Linked DNA regions of Homo sapiens. The protein of the gene in region 2 interacts with the protein of the main gene of each other region in a pairwise test. Each region holds a gene or a part of one and is shown on either strand. Other genes may lie near its edges. The genes, in order: TIMMDC1, TMEM144 and HERPUD2.

What was found.
Region 1: the proteins of TMEM144 (region 2) and TIMMDC1 interact in binary tests that used the Homo sapiens proteins (3 or more experiments, as listed by UniProt).
Region 3: the proteins of TMEM144 (region 2) and HERPUD2 interact in binary tests that used the Homo sapiens proteins (3 or more experiments, as listed by UniProt).

The regions. Positions count from the first base shown.
Region 1 is NC_000003.12:119,521,110-119,525,590, reverse strand, and holds the end of TIMMDC1 (complex I assembly factor TIMMDC1, mitochondrial isoform 1 precursor), read right to left. Parts: intron 1,986-4,481; coding exon 1,835-1,985; 3' UTR 501-1,834; downstream 1-500.
Region 2 is NC_000004.12:158,205,289-158,214,169, forward strand, and holds the start of TMEM144 (transmembrane protein 144), read left to right. Parts: upstream 1-5,197; 5' UTR 5,198-5,298; intron 5,299-6,164; 5' UTR 6,165-6,286; intron 6,287-6,772; exon of another isoform or gene 6,773-6,932; intron 6,933-7,319; 5' UTR 7,320-7,379; coding exon 7,380-7,488; intron 7,489-8,881.
Region 3 is NC_000007.14:35,691,587-35,700,296, reverse strand, and holds the start of HERPUD2 (homocysteine-responsive endoplasmic reticulum-resident ubiquitin-like domain member 2 protein), read left to right. Parts: upstream 1-5,161; 5' UTR 5,162-5,496; exon of another isoform or gene 5,497-5,669; 5' UTR 5,670-5,966; coding exon 5,967-6,113; intron 6,114-8,710. UniProt on the Homo sapiens protein: Could be involved in the unfolded protein response (UPR) pathway.

The DNA.
Region 1 (4,481 bases), on a different chromosome or scaffold from region 2:
GTGACCTTGATCAAGGTGTTTTGAAATGCAGAATTCTTGAGTTCTGGAAGGGACTTTAGAGAATACCAGTGTTATTAATGACAAAGGCACTGAGGCCCAGGGAGGTGACCCGAATTATAAAGGCCAGCGCCAGAACCCAGATTTCCTAACTCTGGTGCTCTTTCCCTTTATCAGTTTGACTGTGGCCTGTTAACTGGTATATACATATATATGTCAGGCAAAGTGCTGCTGGAAGTAGAATTTGTCCAATAACAGGTCAACTTCAGAGACTATCTGATTTCCTAATGTCAGAGTAGAAGATTTTATGCTGCTGTTTACAAAAGCCCAATGTAATGCATAGGAAGTATGGCATGAACATCTTTAGGAGACTAATGGAAATATTATTGGTGTTTACCCAGTATTCCATTTTTTTCATTGTGTTCTCTATTGCTGCTCTCTCACTCCCCCATGAGGTACAGCAGAAAGGAGAACTATCCAAAACTAATTTCCTCTGACATGTAAGACGAATGATTTAGGTACGTCAAAGCAGTAGTCAAGGAGGAAAGGGATAGTCCAAAGACTTAACTGGTTCATATTGGACTGATAATCTCTTTAAATGGCTTTATGCTAGTTTGACCTCATTTGTAAAATATTTATGAGAAAGTTCTCATTTAAAATGAGATCGTTGTTTACAGTGTATGTACTAAGCAGTAAGCTATCTTCAAATGTCTAAGGTAGTAACTTTCCATAGGGCCTCCTTAGATCCCTAAGATGGCTTTTTCTCCTTGGTATTTCTGGGTCTTTCTGACATCAGCAGAGAACTGGAAAGACATAGCCAACTGCTGTTCATGTTACTCATGACTCCTTTCTCTAAAACTGCCTTCCACAATTCACTAGACCAGAAGTGGACGCAACTTAAGCTGGGATAATCACATTATCATCTGAAAATCTGGAGTTGAACAGCAAAAGAAGACAACATTTCTCAAATGCACATCTCATGGCAGCTAAGCCACATGGCTGGGATTTAAAGCCTTTAGAGCCAGCCCATGGCTTTAGCTACCTCACTATGCTGCTTCACAAACCTTGCTCCTGTGTAAAACTATATTCTCAGTGTAGGGCAGAGAGGTCTAACACCAACATAAGGTACTAGCAGTGTTTCCCGTATTGACAGGAATACTTAACTCAATAATTCTTTTCTTTTCCATTTAGTAACAGTTGTGATGACTATGTTTCTATTCTAAGTAATTCCTGTATTCTACAGCAGATACTTTGTCAGCAATACTAAGGGAAGAAACAAAGTTGAACCGTTTCTTTAATAATGCTGATCTACTTTTTGTTGAATTTGTATTTTATTTCAAGTGTCAAAGAAATCATCTTTGTTTATTTAGATGAAACCAAACACTACACATTTACACTCACACTGCTTCCAGGACCCAAGGGTTTCACAGACCATTTGCCTACCTGGTTCTTTCCTCTCCTCTTTCCAGTGATTTCTAGAATACCCTTTCAAAGGACCACATGAATATACGAACTGTAAAATTCAACTTTAATCTTTTGCGAAATGTTTTATTTACTGCTTAAAATCTAGGTGGGTGGATATATTCATGTATGCATATATTGATAGATTAATACAAACATAAGTATGTATTTAAATTTAAGGATAAGTAAAGTGAGAGTACAACAGCCCCATTCTTAGTTAAAAAGAAAAGAAAAAGACAAGAGCAAGCCACTGCCACCACAGGTACCAGCACTTAAATTTGTCAGCAGGCTGACCAAAGAGTGGCCTGTCTGTTGGCATTCATCGGACATGGCAGCTCCCTTCAGCTCTCCAGTGAGTTTCAAGTTCAGAGCACTTTCAGTCCTTGTCTTGTTTATCTATTACTGAAGGGTTTCTAGGAAGGTTTAGCAGTGCTTCAATTTTCTTAGCATCATTCTCAGGTTCATCTTCCTGTAAACTACTTTCAATTTTCTCAGGGAGGTGCTCAGTAACTTGTAGTCTGCCTTTCCTGTAATCAGATAAAAAGGATAAATCAAATACTGCTCCATTTCTTTAGTTCTTACAGATTTAAAACAAAAAGGATAGCATTTGTCTTTTCCTCCCTGCTTTGGTATAGCAATTTAGAAGCAAATACTGCTCCCTGAACTTCAAATACAGTAACTTTCTTCTCTCTCCTAACCTCACAAGCCAATTATGATTTCCACATTACCATAATGGATACCGTTGTGGTGACAGCTCTGATCCATAAGATATTCCTAGTATGCTGGGTCCTAGAGTTCTCACAGGAGTGATGTGTGGGAACTGACACACTTTGTGCTAAGGTGTGAAGGCTTGAAGTCTCGCTGTCCTCTTGCTCCCAGGGCTGGGGGAATGTAAGTACCCTGCCACTCTTAAACTCTGTGACCAGACCTTTTAGGAACTGGTCAAAGGCTATAACAATGGTAATCCAAGGTAGAGAAAAGTCAGATAGAACAAAACTATAGATTTATATTTATGAAGAGTTAAAAACTAATTTCCAAATAATAGATCAGTTCTGTTTCTAAATCAAGTATTAGTGTCTTCCTTAAGTGATTATCGGGATTAAAGTTTCTTCTCAACTCTTCACAGATTTGGTCATTTGTTCTTCTATATCTCTATAGTCAGTTTTCTACATTTTCTGCTCATTGAGGCAATTTTTTTGACTCTCAATTTGTTTGATTTTCCTGTATTATTTTCAAGCGAAGAAGTAGGCACATACAAGACACTTAAACGTTTATTAACTCTCCTTAGAAATATCTCACACACACACACACACACACACACACACACAAACACCCATACGTGTATATGCTATACAATTTTGACACTTTCATTCTGCCAAAGTATTCTTTCATTACTATGATTCAAGTTGTTTTTATCCATCTGTCTTAAAATTGATACTAATAATTGTACATATTTATGAAGTACAAAGTGATATTTTTGTACATATACAATGTGTAATGATCAAATCAGGGTAATTAGCATATGCATCACCTCAAACATTTATCATTTCATACTGCTGGGACCATTCAAATATCCTCTCTTCCAGCTACTTGAAAATATACAATAAATTATTAACTATAGTCATCCTACAGTGCCACAGAACACTAGAATTTATGCCTCCGATCTAGTTATAATTTTGTATTCATTAATCAATCCCTTAAATCTCCTCTTCTTATGCCTTTCCCTGTCCCCTCCTCAGCCTCCAGTAACCATAATTCTACTCTTTACTTCTATGAGCCCATTTTTTAGCTCCCACATGAGCAACAGAACATGCAGTATTTATCTTTCTGTGTATGACTTATTTTACATAACAATGTCCTCCAGGCTCATCCATGTTCCCACAAATGACAGGATTACATTCTTTATTATGGCTGAATAGTATTCTATGGTGGATATATACCACATTTTCTTTATCCATCCATCTGTTGATGGACACTGACGTTGATTCCATACCTTGGCTATTAATAGTGCTACAATAAGCATGGGGGCGCAGATAACTCTTTGATATGCTGGTTTCTTTTCCTTTGGATAAATACCTAGTAGGGAAGATTGCTGGATCTTACAGTAGTTCTATTTTTAGTTTTCTGAGGAACTTCCATACTGTTTCTATAAAGGCTGTAATAATTTGCATTCCTACCAAAAGTATATGAGTTCCCTTTTCTTTCTACATCCTTGCCAAAATTTATTTTTTGTCTTTCTGATAATAGACATTCTAATTGGGATAAATATCACTCCAATTTCCCAAACTGTCCCCAAACCACATTTCATTGTGGTTTTGATTTGCATTTCCCTGATTAGTTATGTTGAATACTTTTTCATATACTTGTTAGCACTTGTAGGTATTTTTTGAGAAATACAAGTTTCCCCCCAAGCTCCCCCGCCCACTTTTTTTTTTTTAAAGAGACAGGGACTCACTTTGTTGCCCAGGCTGGAGTGCAGTAGCACAATCATGGCTCACTGCTGCCTTGAATTACTGGGCTCAAGGGATCCTTCAGCCTCAGTCTCCCAAGTAACTGGGGCTATAGGCATGCACTACTGTGCCTAATTTTCTTTTGTCTCATGCTGTCACTCAGGCTGGAGTGCAGTGGCACCATCTTGGTTCATTGCAACCTCCACCTCCCAGGCTCAAACAATCCTCCTGCCTCAGCCTCCCACGCAGTTGGGATTACAGGTGTGCACCATGACAATTTTTGTATTTTTAGTAGAAATGGGGTTTCACCATGTCGGTCAGGCTGGTCTCGAACTCCTGACCTCAAGTGATCCGCCTGCCTCGGCCTCCCAAAGTCCTGGAATTACAAGTGTGAGCCACCGTGCCTGGCCTCCAATGCCCTTTATTTCTTTTTCTTGCCTAACTGCTCTGGCTAGGATTTCTAATACTATGTTGAACAAGACTGGTAAGAGTGGGCATTCCTATTTCATTCCAGTTCTTTGAGGGAAAAGCTTTTCACTTTTCCCTGTTCAGTATGATATTAGCTGTGAGTTT
Region 2 (8,881 bases):
AAAAAAAAAAAGGAAAGAAAAGAAAAATATAACTTTCTCCATTCCTTTTGTGTCTTTATAATTAACATGGATTTCTGGTAAACAACGTAGAGTTGATGCCTGTATTTTATTCAATCAGTCGTTGTCTTTTAATTGGTAGACCATTTATATTTAGTGATACTTGATAGAGTTGGATTAATATTTCCCATATATTAATTGTTTTCTGTTTGTTGCCCTTGTAATTATTTCCCTTTTTTGTCCTCCCCTCTTCATATGGTTTGGCTCTGTGCCCCTACCCAAATCTCACGTGGAATTGTAATCCCCATAATCCCCACCTGTTGAGAGAGGGACTTGGTGGGAGGTGATTGGGTCATGTGGGTGGTTTTCCCCATGCTGTTCTCGTGATAGTGAGTGAGTTCTCACAAGATCCCATGGTTTTATAAGGGGCTCTTCCCGCTTTGCTTCCTCTCACCTGCTGCCATGTACAACATGCCTTTGCTTCTCCTTCGCCTTCTGCCATGATTCTAAGCTTCCTGAGGCCTCCCCAGCCATGCAGAACTGTGAGTCAAACCTCTTTCCTTTATAAATTACCCAGCCTCAGGTAGTATCTTTATAGTAGTCTGCAAATAGACTAATATACCTCTTTTGCTCCCTTTTCTAGTTTTAATTGAGCATTTTATATGATTCTATTTTCTCTCCTCTCTTAGCATATCAATTATACTTAAAAATATGTTTTTAGAAATTGTCCTAGAGTTTGCAGTACACATTTACAACTAAGTCCACTTTTCAATAACACTATACCATTTCACAGGTAGTGCAGGTACTGTATAAAAGATTATTCCCAGTGCCTCTCTCCTGTTCCTTAAAGCATTGCTGTCATTTATTTCATTTATTCATAAACTAATATCACCCAATATATTACTGATATTATTATTTTGAAGTTATCTATGCGATCAATTAAGAATAAGAAACAAATTATAGGTTGGTGGATTTTTCTTTCAACACTCTAAATATTTCACTCTACTCTCTTTTTCCTTGCATGGTGTCTGAGAAGTCTGATTAATTCTCATCCTTGTTCCTTATAAGTAAGGTGATAGTTTTTCCTCTGACTCCTTTCAATATTTTCTCTTTATTTTCCACAATTTGTATACAATATGCCTACATGTAGTTTTTTTAAAATTTATCTTGCTTGGTGTTATCTGATCTTCCTGGATCTGTGGTTTGATGTCTGTTATTAATTTTAGAAAGTTGTCCACCATTATTAGATACCTAGATAACTATTATTTATGTATCTTCTGCTGCTTTCTTTCTTTTCCTTCTGGTATTGCTATTACCTGTATTTTATGCCTTTTGTAATTTTCATACAGTTCTTGGAAATTGTGTTTCTTTTTCCTATTCTGTTTTCTGTTTCCATTTAAGTTTGGGAAGTTTCAACTGACATACCTTCAAGCTCACTGATTCTTTTGCAGCTATCAAAAGTGATTCTCTTTTCTATTGTAGTATTTTTTGTTCTCTAACATTTCCTTTTGATTCTTTGAGTTTTCATCTTTCTGTTTATTCGTTCTTGCACTTTTCCCAGTTGATCTCTTAGCATATTAGTCATAGCATATTTTAAATTTCCAGTCTCATAATTCCCAAATCCCTGCCATATCTGAATCTGGTTCTGAGGCTTGCTTTGACATTTCAGAGCTGTGTTTTTTCTTGCCTTTTAGCATGCCTTATAATTGTTCATTGAAAGTGAGGCATGATGTATCAGATAATAGAAAACAAGATAAGTAGACCTTTAGTTTTTATGTGTATTGGGCCAGAAGTTAGACTGTGCTTAATGGTTGTTGTAGCTGTAAGTATCAGAGGCTTCTATTTTCTCTAATATCTTTCTTTTTGTCTCCCCTATTTGTTGTCTTTGGGTTTTCCTAGAGACTCATTTTTAAGCAGAGTCTGTGTCTTGCAACTCTCTCTAGTTGTGATCCACAGTTATTATACCAAAACACTATTTATGTGGTCGTAAGATATTGGAGAGTTGATACATTCTATAATGTTATGATAAAATCTCTATTTTTAAATTCTTATTTCTTTTTAAACAATTTTAGATTCAGGAGGCACATGTGCAGGTTTCCTACATGGATAGATTCTGTAATGGTGAGGTTTGGGCTTCTAGTAAACCCATCACCCAAATAGTAAACATTACAGCCAATAGATAATTTTCAATCTGCTCTCCTCTCCCACGTTTCCCTGTTTTGGAGTCCCTAGCATCTATTATTTTACCTTTATGTCCATGTGTACCCATTGTTTAGCTCCCACTTATAAGTGAGAACATGCAGTACTTGATTTTCTGTCTGAGTTATTTCACTTAGGATAATGGCCTCTAGCTCCATTCATGTTGCTGCAAAGGACATGATTTCACTCCTTTTTATGGCTGCGTAATATTCCATAGTTTATATATACCACATCTTCTTTATCCAATCAACTACTGATGGACACTTAGGATGATTCCTAATTGTGAATAGTACCCCAATAAATATATGAGTGCCAGTGTCATTGATTATAACAATTTCTTTTCCTTCAAGTAGATACCCAATAGTGGGATTGCTGGGCCAAATGGTACTTCTATTTTCAGTTATTTGAGAAATCCCCATACTGTTTTCCGTAGGGGTTTTACTAGTTTACATTGTCATTAACAGTATATACGCATTCCCTTTTCTCTGTATCTTTGCCAACATCTAAAACTCTGTTTTCTAGTTGTCCAGAATCCCTGAGCTGTGAACTTCATAAGGGTTTCTTCTTTTGTTTTTCTCCTTATGTGAGAAAGAAAGTGTAGAAGGTGTTCAAACTGTCTAGTTGCCTTTTCTCTAATTCAGATAAAGCTCTGGGGTAAAGTTTACCTTGAGGACAGGCTTTTGTTTCTGAGTATATTTCAAATAGTTATTGTTTTCCTCCCACATGCCAGAAAAAAGAGGAAACTTTTGTCCTGTCTTCTGAAAGTAAAACTCATTAATGTGTGGATGCTCCCATATGAATGACTCCCACTGTCTCTGAGTTTTCAACTCTCAAGTTAGTCCACACTCAGCCTTCAGCAATAGGCCAAATACTGTATAAATGCCCCCCTATCCTTTACTGGCTCCAGTGGCTTTTGCTGTCCTGATAAGCTGTAATTCTCCGTATTCACCTATTTCTTCAGTTTGCAAAGAGGTGGCATGTCCTATGACATCAATTCTCTGCAGATCTAAAAAGAGTAGTTGATTTTTGATTTGCTCATTTTTTTCTTGTTGTGATGATGGAAGTGGAGACTTTCACACCTTTCAAATGTCAGAGCAGAAACCAGAAGTCCTAGTAATAATGTTATATATATATATATATATATATATATATATATATATATATATATATATATATCTCTTTTGACCACATAAAAGGGGGAGGTGCACAGGTCTTATTATTATCATTTTACATATAAGAAAACTAAGGTTTAAAGAGATTAAATGAGTTTCCATGAGAAATATTGCTAACAGACGAAGCTAAAGTCAGAACCTGGATCTTCTAGTGTCTGCCAGGACTCTCCCAATACAGACCATTCTGTTTAGGCATTCATGTATACGAAACAATTTGAAAGAAAAATTTTAGTTTAAGAATAGAGTCATGCATGTTTGGATTTGCTCTGTGGCATAATGTAAAAGGCAATGGCCTAGCATATCCCTAATGAATCTTCTCAGGCCTAATTCAGCCCCCAACTCACTTTTAGACTTTAGAAATTCTCAGCAAATGCTGACACAAGCTTCAGTTTCTCCATGTGAGTGAAGCAAGAATAAACCACATGATCTTGTGACCATGAAGTGAAACAATTCTAGGTTGGATTTAGGCCCTATATTTTTGGAAGCAAGTTTGTGTATGTGTGTGTGTCTTAGGTGTGCATGTGTGGAAAGGGGAACTGATTTCTTCAAAATCTTTCTGAACTGCTAAATTAATCCTCTTCCTTAAGTGAAAAAGCTTTGCTGCTTTAATTCTTTAAATGAAATGTTATTTTGCCTTCCCATCTGCTCATCTGACATGATAGTCTATGGATGTGATTAATGTTTAAGGCAGAACTTCCTTCTAGGAAATGTCATATTTTAACAGTCCTTGTGTTTTCTCCTTCCTGTGAATGCTACACCCATTACCAACCACTGGATGGTCTCGGGTTAAATAGCACTTCCTCAGAGAAGGCTTCTTTGAACTCAGACTAGCACAGAACCTACACTTCCCCTTTCCAACTTAAAGTTTGCATCCTTTGGTGTATGCGAACCCACATGAAGAGATGTTTTTTTTGTTTTGTTTTTTTTTTGAGAGGACTCCCTCACTTTGGGAGGGCGAGGCGGGCGGATCACCTGAGGTCAGGAGATCGAGACCATCCTGGCTAACACGGTGAAACCCCGTCTCTACTAAAAATACAAAAAAATTAGCCAGGTGTGGTGGTGGGTGCCTGTAGTCCCAGCTACTCAGGAGGCTGAGGCAGGAGAATCGCTTGAACCCAGGAGGCGGAGGTTGCAGGGAGCCGAGATTGCACCACTGCACTCCAGCTTGGACGAGAGCGAGACTCCGTCTTAAAAAAAAAAAATACAGATAAATGGCCTGTACAGATAAATGGCTTAGGTGCATCTACAAAGAATTAGTGATTACAAGTGAAATCTTGTAATGTCACAAGAAATGTTAATGACGTCAGTGGTGCAGATGAATTTCTTAATACCAAGTGGAAAAATTCACTTGAGATAATCTTTTACAATGGTGTGAAATTCCTCAGACTTTTGTTTTATCCATAAACTGCACAAATAATACCTCCCTCTGTGACACTTAGAGAGGGTGACATGCTGAGAGTTTCCTGAATAATCACCTCTTGAAATACACAAAACTCTTCTAGTTTCCTGGTTGACCGACCCAGGGCTTGACGACTCCTTTTGAGCCACCTGACAATTCAGTCCAGCACAGCAACTGAAGGAAGGCGTTCCCCAACCTGCTGTCCTATGAAGGCCTCTAGGTCACCGGTGCTAAAGCCCTCCTTTCTCCACCCTCCTTAAGTGGAGGTAAACGTCCCAGCAGGAAGTCAAGGCTGGATTGGCGCTCTTCGCGAGCACCCTGGGAACGGGAGTCTGGGTCACGGGTGCTAGAGCCCTCCCCTCTCCTCCCGGCCGGTGTATGGGAAATTGTCCCCGCAGAAAGTAAAGGCTGGCCAGGCCGCCCCCAGCACGTAGAGGGAATGAGTCAGGCTCCGGCTCCACACTGGCACGTAGTGGGCGGATCGCGCCGGCGCTGAGTAGGAAGGAGCTTCAGCCGCCAGCCCGGAACGCAGTGAGTACAGCCACTCAAAGGAAAGCCAAGTCGCTTTGCAGGGGAGCGTCTCATGATTTTTCAGAAACGTGCTCATGGTTAAAAAGAAAAATCAAGGCTCGGAATAAATACATTCAAGCACTGTTAATTTTAGCCCAAAGACAGGCGGTACTTGCCTGGAGATTTGGGAAAATCAACATGAAACTAAAAATGAAATTTTAGTTGGAGTGGAGCAAGCAGTATTGATCAGAACATACCAAATACGAATTTTTTCAAAGTCTGCGTAGAAGTTTAAATTACTAGGAAAAATGTAAAGGAGAAGTATTTACTAATAAATGAAACAAAAGTAATAAAATAAAAATGAATTAATATAGTTTGACAAAATATCAGCGAACGCTGAAAAGAAAACATTAAAATAATGTTTGAGACTTTTTAGGTTTTGTGCAGGAAGAATTGGGAAAAATGTGCTGGATGGAGTGATACTGCTTTTCTTTTCCACAAAAATTTCATTATTTTAGAGAGCGGTAGAGCCTTTTTAAAGACAGTAAGTTATTGCCAATTCACAATGAAATAAGATCACATGCTCTGAAATGTACAAGAGCTGCATGCAATAAACTTCATTTATCTATAGGTAATAACTGATTGATGTTTATTCAGTAGTCGAAATGCACCTCATGCACTCTAATTAGCACGTCAAATTAGTCTCTCCGTTTCAGAGGTGTAGGGCCTTTGTGGAGCCTTCTCAATAAAATAATTTGCCACTCTTGAAGGTTAGACATTCTCTTCTATCAATGTACACATAAAGGTTTTGTTTTGCTTTGCTTGTTGTGAATTAAAATGGGGAGAAAATGATGTGTTAGCTATCACCCAGTCATGTGTCTTTTTAGTCATAGGTTAGCTTTTCAAGACACTTCCTGCATCTCTGACCTGTTGCACCTCTGTTATCTTGGCACCTCTGTTATCTTAGCAGCAAGCACCTGCCTCAGCTGACCCTTGAGCCATAACCCATGTAAGTCACTGCAGGGCTGAACCTCTCTTTGAGCCTAACAGTAGAATAATAATTATTTTTATTGAATAGTGTTAATGTGTCAATGTTGAAATGTGCCTCAGTGTGTCTTCCTCAACCACATCCCTATAGAGGATGTTTTCTTAATAGCAATGTGTTTTTGTTTTAAGAAAGTCCACACAATTTCAAATACACATTTTCTTTACTAAAGTTTATTGACCAGTTTTGAAGTGATCCTTGTTTTCAGTTAAACTATCTTTAATAATGGTAAATAACATATTTTGTAGGTTGTTGTATATTTAATATTCTCTGCAAGAACACATAAGGAACAATACATGGACCTTTAAATATTTGTCATTGTGAAATAAAATAACAAGGAAAGGTGATTTCAGGTGTACTTTATTCAATACATATATACAAGAAGTTATTACTATAACATTAAATTTGCAGGAAAAAAGAAACCACTGGATTATTCTGCTTCTATTCCAGAGGGCTTATTCCAAAGGGCCAGTGTGCAAAATATGAATCCAAGATGGCATTGTGGAAAGACGCTGTACCTCCTGTGATAAAATTACTTTGGTGGTGCTTTTTTCTCATGTATCTCGGGAAACTAAAAATCTGAATTGTATTCAGTGGCCTTTTCCAAATGGTAACTTTATGAAAAAATGTCTAATTCTTGGTTATTTGTGGTTTTAGTCCTTTCTTCATAGAGAAGCTAAAGCTGTTAAATAAGCTTAGCAGCGTTATCCGCTAAAACTTTCTGCAGTGATGGAACCTACACAGGAGAATTTTTTTTGTAATGTACTAAAAATTTGTCTTCAGGGCTTGTTCTTTTTAAATTGTAGGCTAGTGATCAAAAATATTTGGTGATAGAATAAATTAACATGAAGTACAAACATTATATATAGTTGTGTAATATCCTATCTGCAAAAAGGAGTCTTAGCGTGCTTTTGAAAAATTCAATAAATATAATATGTTAATCACAATTTGGTCACAGATTCACGTCTCAATTGTTTCATTTTTTCTTTTATTTCAGAAGCTCCTGAAAAGTACATCAAGTCTAAAGTGAACCAGCTAACTCATTAAGACTGGAATCATGAGCAACAATGGAGCAGACCTAACCTTTGGTTACATCTCCTGTTTTGTAGCTATCCTTTTGTTTGGCTCAAATTTTGTGCCACTTAAAAAATTTGATACTGGTGATGGTAATTATTTTTCCTTGATTGTTAACGTTATATTATTTTTAAAAATGAAGTTCCTTTTTTGGTCTTTTAAAAGTATAGCTACAAAAATAAATCATGTTGATCTTGATACCTAGTGAATAGAGCTTAAAATTAGTCATTTGACAGTGCTCATACCAGTTTGTCTGAAAGTCAGAATAGGAGAACCATTAAGGTTGTTTCATGGTAAAGTTAGGGAGGGTACAGTCAGGAAATCTCTTGGGCCATTATATGAATGGAAGAAATTTATAGTCAGTTCTACTATAACACCTGTTTTGAAAACATGAATCTTCAACATGATTGATATATTAGAGAACAATGTAAGCATAACAGATTTTTGGCTTGCTTATGTGCAATTTTGTCCCTGAGAAACCTCTAGATAGGCACAGAAGACTGCACCTAGATGAATAAAGATGTGTGATAATACACATAATGCACGCAGACACACGTACAATCTTCAAATATCGACCAGCTCCCTTAGTTCATCACATGTGGTTATGATGTATTCCACCCAACCACATCTCCTGTCCCAACTCCTCACCCAATACCTTCACAGTAACTCGTAAGCTGCAACCCTTTGGATGCTCACTTCCAGGAGCAAACTTCTGGTGTTTTTCAATTAAAATGCCCTATTTATTACAGCATCATGTAATTAACCAGTTAACCAGTTAAAACTGTACTACTATTTTAATTAGGTTGAGTGTTGTTCTCCTAGCCCCATTTTCCCATTATGCTCTGTAGTTTTTACTGCATGATTTTGCATAGTGCAGTGATTTCAAGGAATGCACATGTTACATTATAGCAGAACTGACTAATGTGAATTTTGGGGAAGGAGAAGCAAGAGTTATTTGTATTTGCCTGACTTCCATATTAAAGCCAGGAGAAGGAATTGAGATTTATGGTGAACACATGTTGGGAATTACTTCCTTGGTAGTATTTATCACCTGACAGCAGTTGTGTTATTTCCCCAATTCTTTGTCTTCGTGCACTTAGAAAATAGGATTACCTCCTATTTTCCTCCAGGGCCTTTCTTCTCTTTTCCTCTGGAGTTAGGACAAGAATGGGAACTACCCGAAGAACAAAAAAATGGGTAGAGGATCTAGCTTTTTTAGTCTTCCACAATTAGCTTTGTGATCCTGGGCAAATATTACCAGCTCTGCTGTTTTCAGTTTCTCATTTGTAAAGTGAACAACTTATAAAATGAAGTTTCTTTTCATCTCTGTGATTCTACTCTTTTTATTTTTTATTTTTCATTTTTTTGGGGAGATAGAGTCTCACTCTTTCACCGAGGATGGAGTGAAGTATCATAATCTTGGCTCACAGCAACCTCCACCTTTAGGGTTCAAGTGATTCTCATGTCTCAGCCTGCCAAGTAGCT
Region 3 (8,710 bases), on a different chromosome or scaffold from region 2:
ATAATTCAAAACACCATTTGGGATTTAATGAATGGTTTTGTTTCATTTCCTACAAGATGACTTGTGATCAAACATCTGGGACCATTTACGATTTTTAAAGTAGAGTGTTGAAATGAGCTAATTTTCTTAGGCTTCCAATGTAGGTTTTCATTTTTTAAAAACAATAAACTTGATTAAGATTTGATTAGATGCTTTGTGACACAGTCTCTTTAAAAAATGACAAGGATGGTGAAAGTAGAAATGAATGGAATCAGAAGCCAGATGGCCAACATCATCTCTGAAACTTGAAACCGCAAGATCATCACTTGAAGTCTTTCCTTCCAAGAGAGCTAACAAACTCAAACTATACTATTCAACATCATAAAAGTATTTTAGCTTCCTGGAAGGTACTCCAAATTTCAGTAAGAAAAGCTCAGTGACAAGCACTTACTTTGAATTTTTAAAGGAAACTGTAATCTCACTGAATGAATCAATTTTTTTTTTTTTTACTGTTTTTCCCCAAGATGGAGGTCTCACTCTGTCACTCAAGCTGGAGTACAGTGGTGTGATCTTGGCTCACTGCAACCTCTGCCTCCCGGGTTCAAGCGATTCTCCTGCCTCAGCTTCCTGAATAGCTGGGACTACAGGTGCGTGCCACCATGTCCAGCTAATTTTTGTATTTTTAGTAGAGACGGGGTTTCATCATGTTGGCCAGGCTGGTCTCAACCTCCTGACCTCAAGTGACCCGCTCGCCTCGGTCTCCCAAAGTGCTGGGATTACAGGTGTGAGCCACCGCCCCAGCCACAATATGTGTTTTCTAGCTGTTCTCTTTTACACCTCAAAGAAGAAGTGGAAGTAAACAAACATCCCATTAATTCACAGAAAACCATTATTTACAAATAAGTTTCTTCAAATTTATATTTTATTTGTTAACAAAGAGAGCTACCCAACAGTCAGAAATCACTGAATTGCTAAACTCACTTATTGTGTACTGAATAGTTAATATCGCTAAAGCAGAAATTATACTTATTTTTTAATTTTTAATTTCCATAGTTTTTTGGGGAACAGGTGGTATTTAGTTACATAAGTTCTTTGGCGATTTTTAAGATTTTGGTGCACCCATCACCCGAGCAGTATATACTGAACCCAATTTGTAGTCTTTTATCCCTTACGCCCTTCTCACCCTTTCCCTGAAAGTCCCCAAAGTCCATTGTATCATTCTTATGCCTTTGCATCCTCATAGCTTAGGGACATATGAGAACATATGATGTTTAGTTTTCCATTCCTCAGTTGAAGTAGAAGTATTATATTTATTATTAATGATCATGACTCTTTTATTATCTATTACCATATTATATTACCATGGTACTCTTGAGAGTTCTCATTACGGGCTTTTTTTTTTTGAGACTGAGTCTCACTCTGTCGACCAGGCTGGAGTGCAGTGGCACAATCTCAGCTCACTGCAACCTCTGCTGCCAGAGTTCAAGCAATTCTCCTGCCTTAGCCTCCCTAGTGGCTGGGATTACAGGCATGCACCACCACACCTAGCTAATTTTTTGTATTTTTAGTAGAGATGGGGTTTCACCATGTTGGCCAGGCTGGTCTTGAATTCCTGACCTCAGGTGATCCACCTGCCTCAGCCTCCCAAAGTGTTGGGATTACAGGTGTGAGCCATCGCACCCAGCTGGGGCTATCTTTAGTAGCAGATGGTAACTGAGCTGGGCAATTGTTCTTTGACATTTCCAGTTCTTATCTGTTAACATGGACAGTGATTTAAATAGGCAGCTGCATGGACGGCCTCTCCCTAACTGCTGCTATCTTGTATCTCCTCATTGGTAATTATTTTTCCTAGCCCAAATTCCACGTCAAACACTATCAATATTCTGGGGACCACCCTTTCATACACTGCTCTGTACACATACCTGTTTATACATATTTTAACAAAAGTGGAATATTTACATACTGTTGTTATCATAGCCAAGCTCAACAGCATCAAAAGCATTTTTAGGTACTTAATTCAAGTGGCTGTAAAATTTAAAAAAAATCATTTTTTCTGATACTATATCATCTTTGTACCCGTATATTTCAATTTCTTGAATGTTCATTACAATTTTATTTTTACTTTTTATTCTTTCTTGAGACAGAGTCTCACTCTATCACCCAGGCTGGAGTGCATGGTATGGTCTCAGCTCACTGCAACCTCTACCTTCTGGGTTCAAGCAATCCTCCCACCTCAGCCTTCAGAGTAGCTGGGAACACAGGCGTGCACCACCACGCCCGGCTTATTTTTGAATTTTTTTGTAGAGACGGGGTTTCTCCGTGTTGCCCAGTCTGGTCTTAAAGTCCTGAGCTCAAGCAATCTGCCTGCCTCGGCCTCCTGAAGTGCTGGGATTAGAGGCAAGCCACTGCGCCCAGCCTTTATTACAATTTTAAATGTTTTTCTCTGTGTTAGCGAACCTTTGATGGACTGTTTTAAAGAGTGTTAAAGAGTGTTTAAATCACTGTGAAATGCACATTCTGTCTTAATATTTATAATTATTAGGGTACCTTCATTAATAGTGTACATTGCATAGTGCCAAACGAGATCACCACATCACTTCTAAAGGATTCCTGGAAGTCTGAGTCACAAGCATGAGACAACAGCTGCAGGACTGGGTGGTGAAGGTTGTGAAAACTTCCTGGCTTAAACAGGAATTTGACCCAAAACAAGAAGTCTTAGGGAAGATAGCTTAGGGCTTGTCTGGTGGCACCACAATGCCATCAAATGCCCAGCCTCTTTACAGTTTTCTGCTCTGCCATCCTTGGAATGCAGGCCATTGTTCTCCTGTTTGTTGTTTCATGACTGAACTATGAGTGCTGTAGCTCTTCACGTTCCTCCTGGAAGACAGGTGTAGGGCAAAGATGAGCTCTGATTCGCAGAGCCCTTCCATCTATATGCTTTCTTAGAAGCCTCAGCAATAAGTTCAACATTCAACTCATTGGCTTGAAGTGTGTCAAATGGCTGCCCCTTGCTTCAAAGGAGTCTGAGAAAATAACTTTAGCTAGAATTAAAGTTCCATTAGAGTGCCTGGGTAGACAAAGAAGAGTCAGCTACAGAAGGCCAGTATCATAGCAAGTTGTTGCTCCATGACTGGAAACAAAGAAGACTTCACTCTTTACTTCAGATGCGCAGTTGATAGAGTACAGCTAAGATATGGTACGTGTTCTACCATGAAGAGCAAGAGCAAGGTGAGGGAGGGTACGGTGTAAGAGATCCTGCTGCATTAGCTGTTGAGAGGAAGAATTTCCTCCTGGTCACTATGTTACTGGGGGTCCTTGCTCCCCAAGTTCCCAAGATGGTGGCAGGTCGCTTCCAAGATGGTGACGGGCCACTTCCGAGATGGTGGCAAGTCTTGTGTTCTCTGACCTGGGGTTCTTGGCCTCATGGATTCCAAGGAATGGAATCTTGGGCCAAGCGGCGAGTGTTATAGCTCTATTAGAAGCTGTGGGTCATGGAAGAGAATCGTGGAACCCAGTGACTAGTGTTTAGCTAGATTAGGACGAACCTGGGCACTTAGCCCTGCAGGAACAAGGGCAAGCCTTTAGCCCGATCAGGAGCAGCAATGGGCGCCTCGCTGGATCCAGAGGGATGGAAGTCAGCTGTGGGTCTGTGACAGCGGCAGACAGCAGTGGTGGACGGTGAGCGAAAGCTCAGCTTGAGCTGTGACACACACGTACCAGAAAAGTGTGCAATTGCAAGATTTAATAGAGTGAAAACAGAGCTTCCATACAAAGGGAGGGGACCCAAAGAGGGTAGCCACCGCTGGCTTGAATGCCTGGGTTTATATCCTGATCATTGTCCCTCCTGTTGTGCTCTCAGGCGATAGATGATTGGCTACTTCTTTACCTCCTGTTTTTCCCTAATTAGCATTTTAGTGAGCTCTCTTTACTACCTGATTGGTCGGGTGTGAGCTAAATTGCAAGCCCCGTGTTTAAAGGTGGACGTGGTCAATTTCCCAGCTAGGCTTAGGGATTCTTAGCCAGCCTAGGAAATCCAACTAGTCCTGTCTCTCAGTACCCCCTCTCAACAGGAAAACCCAAGTGCTATTGGGGAGGTTTGACCACCGCTCTAACTGCTTCCTGCTGAATTGGGGCACAGTAGGGGTTGTGCAGTTGAGATTTCCTCCGTAGGGGTGCCTTGTCTCTCAACTAATTCAGTGGTGGCTACCTCGAAGCCCTTCTGAAGCTAAGAGGGAAAGAGACCAGCTCGCAAAGTCCCCTATGTTATCTACTCCTAAGTGGAAGCTGGGAGCTGTGAAAATGCACATCTAACAACCCTTAACTTACTATACCGACTTCTAAACCACAGTAGAAAATGAAGAAAAGTTCGGCTATGGGCAATAGACTCAACCTTTTGTTCTATGTCTAACCTATAAAATAGAAAAATAATACTGTCATCCCTCATCTCCCACCATACTGAACACGCATTAGGTGCTCAATGAATACTTGTCCATTTTAGTGAAGATTAAGAGGAATGAGACGGAAACTGACACTTGAGAGGCTGGCACACGCCAGAACTGCACCACACTTTGCACTCATAGCTCATTTACTCATCAGCTTGTGGTCAGGTAGGCATTACCGTCCCCATTAGAGAAGTCAACGGAGGCTCAGCAAGGACGGCCAGGGTCCCCCAGAAAGTAGAGGAGGACTTCAGGTTTAACCAAAAGCCTGTACTCTTTACACATGTACCCCATGCCTTCTCCACCAAAGCTCCTGGCACCGTGCTTTGCAGACAGACGACGCTCAACACATTTTGAGCAGAAGCGTGGTTCAGCACCAGGAAGGACACCAACTTTTGCAGAGACGACTCTTGGGATGGAGAAAGACTTCCCAAATCTTCAGGGTGCGGTCAAGACAGGGTAGGCTAGCGCCAGGGGAGCTAGTGGCTAGGCCCCAGGGCAGCTGGGGCCGAGGCCGAGCAAACGGCCAGGGGAGAGGCTCCCAGGAGCCCGATCTGCCGCTGGGCGACGCGAAGCCTGGCGGCTAGAGTCCCGGGCAGCCCGAGCACGGCGGGAAGGCGGCAGCAACAGGATCGGCAGGGATGGCGGGGACGGGGGAGGTCCATGTGCAGGGGCGTGCCGCCGGTGACGCACTTCCGCCCTGCCTGTTCCGGCTTAAAGGGGCCCCAGACAATCCTCGCAATAACAACAAAACCGGCGCGCCAGCGGTGGCGCAACGGCTCTCGTCCCCGCCCTCCTGCTACCTGTAGTCGCCTGGGCCGCCCCCGGCCCAGCCCTGCCTTGCCGCCACCCTGCGCTGTCCAGACTGAGGGGTCAGGCGGAGAGCCGGGCCGCGCCTTCGGTCAGCTTCTCTCCCTTTCACCCGCGCCTCCTCGCGAGACCCGGGGCTGGGCCGTGCCGGTCGCCGCGCAGCAGGAAGGGAGCGGCTGCCACGGAAAACGCCTGGCCGGACGGTGTGGCTGGCGGCCCTGCCTGGGCGCGGAGGGCGGCGGTGGCGGGCCCCGCGGCCTTCTCTCAGGTACCCCAGTGCCCGCTGACCGCCCTGAGCGGCCCAGCTGCTTCCCCGATCCGCACCGCGGGGCCGTGGCGTAGGGGCCTTGTTGCGTTCCAGCTTGGGGGTCGCGGTGGGGCGGGGCAGTGACCCCGGGCCGGCCGTTGTGCCCTCATCCCTCCCACCCTTCCTTCGTATAGCTTCCTTTCTCCTCACGACGGCCTCCACAGTCCGGAGCCCGGCGGAGCCCGGACCTGGCGGGGAGAGCTGCCTCCACGGCCGGGCACCCAGACCCCACCGTCGCAGTCGCCACCACCTCAGTCCATCCTTGGTACCGGCAATGGGCTTCGTATCCTCCAGTGCACTTGTAACTGACTTGGACACGGAATACTAAGAACTCACTTCTGTCCTCATCCCAGTCGCGCCGGCGGTGACCATCTCGGCTCTTTTGGGCTTAACTGCCGCTCCTCTGGACTCTGTCTGACTTTGGGGGCACCATGGACCAAAGTGGGATGGAGATTCCTGTGACCCTCATCATTAAAGCACCGAATCAGAAATACAGTGACCAGACTATTAGCTGCTTCTTGAACTGGACCGTGGGGAAACTAAAAACGCATCTATCTAACGTTTACCCTAGCAAACCAGTAAGTGTGTAAAAGCTGGGGGCAGCTGCTCTGACCAGCAGCTTTTCGTGCCGTGTACCCTCCTTTTTCCTGCTTCTCCCCTCCAGTCTTGAATCAAATAGGTCTCTTTTGGTAGACCGCGAGGTATTTTGAGTTCTGAGGTTGTGTCTCCTGAGTGTTCGAACCATCATTAATATTTTCCTGATGAGGTTCAGTTAATTAGTAAGAGGAAGCAGAAATATCAAGGGACTTAAGAATTGGCAGGCAAAGACCGGGCGCGGTGGCTCACACCTGTAATCCCAGCACTTTGGGAGGCCAAGGCGGGCGGATCACGAGGTCAGGAGTTCGAGACCAGCCTTACCAACATGGTGAAACCCTATGTCTACTGAAAATACAAAAATTAGCTGGGCGTGGTGGCGCATGCTTGTAATCCCAGCTACTCAGGAGGCTGAGGCAGGAGAATCGCTTGAACCCGGGAGGCGGAGGTTGCAGTGAGCCAAGATCGCACCACTGCCCTCCAGCCTGAGTGGCACAGTGAGACTCTGTCTCAAAGAATTGGCAGGCATGGAAAAGGGACTACTTTCTTTGGACTTAAAGTCATCAACCTAATATGCGAGTGAGAGATATATCCTTTCTTAAAAAAAAAAAAGATAAAGCACTACAACCCGTATCAGAGCTTTTATTGCTTATTACACTAAAATTCCATTTTACTTTCAACACTTGGCCCAGAAACTTAAACAGAAATTGAAGATTTTTTTTTCTTAGAAATAAGTATGTGTCCCCTATAAAAATTATACTTTCAAGGTTACTATATATGTTTCAAGGACCAAAGAATTATAAGTTGTAGATTCGTTTTCACCACAACCCCTTTCAACATTTTTCTCCTGTAGAGGATACATGGACATTAGTTTAAAAGAGAACTGCCCTCCACCCCACCACCATTTGGTGCATCCCTCTCATATGGCTTTTCCATTCTGTGTTCCATTCTGAATCATAACTGGATATTGCAGAGATAATAAATAAAATATAGACAGTACAGCTCCATCTGTCCCCAAAGTCAGATTTGAAAGGCCGTGGTTGGTAATCAAGGAGTCTTGGAATAGTTTAGAAAAGAAGTATACCGTCATGTAGAGTACTGTATATGAAAGTGAGGCTTTCGCATTCTCCACTGTATACATTTTTTATTCTTGAATAAGTAGTGTTTAATTACTAAAACTTTTGTTTAATAAAGAGGGTCGGATTTTAGGGTGGGAAATAACTTTTGGCATCAGGTACATTTAAGCATGGATCTGTTGGAAGGCAACTATGCTTTCTACACTTAACACTTGTTTTATGCACCTAAGTTAAGGAAGACACTTGATCTATATTACGATATTAATGAATTATGAGCATTTCAGTGTTGTAGTATTAAGTTTAGTTAGGCTTTTAGACTTGCAGAAGAACCACAGAAATAGGACGGTTATTGCAAAAACAGGAGGTTTAGAAAAACAACTCTTAATCGGCATTAGCTGTGTTTATCAGTACTTTGTGATACAAATATTTTTAGTAGGAGGGAAAAAAAACCCTGAGGAATTTAAGTACTTAAACTAGTTAGAGCCCCTGTTTATTCACATCTTTTGTTTGAAAGTTAAGATTTACACAGGGAGTAAGAATCTGTTTGAAAATACCTTGATTACAAAAGATTTCCTGTTGCATATGATTAGTTTCACACATTTTTGAAGTGGAAAATAGGTTTTTAGGATAGTCAATTGAAAGTCATAGACTTCCATAATACTGTTCATAGCAAATATATGCTCTGGTATGTACGTAGGCGAGATCTTTACATTGTACTATTAAACCAAAAGGGACCTAGTCTGCAGTTTATAGACTTTTTTCTAAAGCTTTTTTAAAAAAAAGTACCTGAGACGGGAGTGGGAAGCCTGTCTGCCTTATCTACCCATGAAGAGGCCTGCTTTTGGCAGGAGGTCTGCCTGTGCAGCACTGATCACTAGTGGAGGATGTCAGTGCCGCTGTGCATTAGTTAGCTGTCTGAGGATGAGATCTGTTACAGAACTCCTTCCCAAACTGCCTGCCTCCTGTAGCCACACTGGAGACACTTTTGGAGGCTAAACCAAATACTATGCAGCCTATTAATGATTAACATGGCAAACCTTTTTTTCTCCTTTGACAAGTTTTCTTTAAGTGAATTGTAATGTCTGACTTTCATTTCTAGGTTGAGTGGGTGGAGCTCTGGAGCGGTGGGGGTATGTGTGTTTATCGTCATAGAATTTCACTGAAAACTTTGTATAGTTACTAGATTTAGTAAGTTTACATTCTTATCACGTGAGAATTGATTTGAAGCATCACAGTTGTTGAGCAGCAGTTTAATGGTATCGCAAAGCCATAGGTAGTCCTCAGCATAGGAGTTGGAGTCCTAAAAGTTTACTTTGTAAGGTCATTATTTAGAATTCAGCACAGTTTGCTATTAAGTAATATTATAAAGGAAGTTTAGGTTTTTCTGACCGCCTGCAATGACTAAACATTGATTCTGTGTTTTAGTTTTCAAGTGCTGTTATGTTTAACAGAGATAATTTCTTGTGCATCTTCCTTGCACATATGCCTACTTTCATTATCAGTGT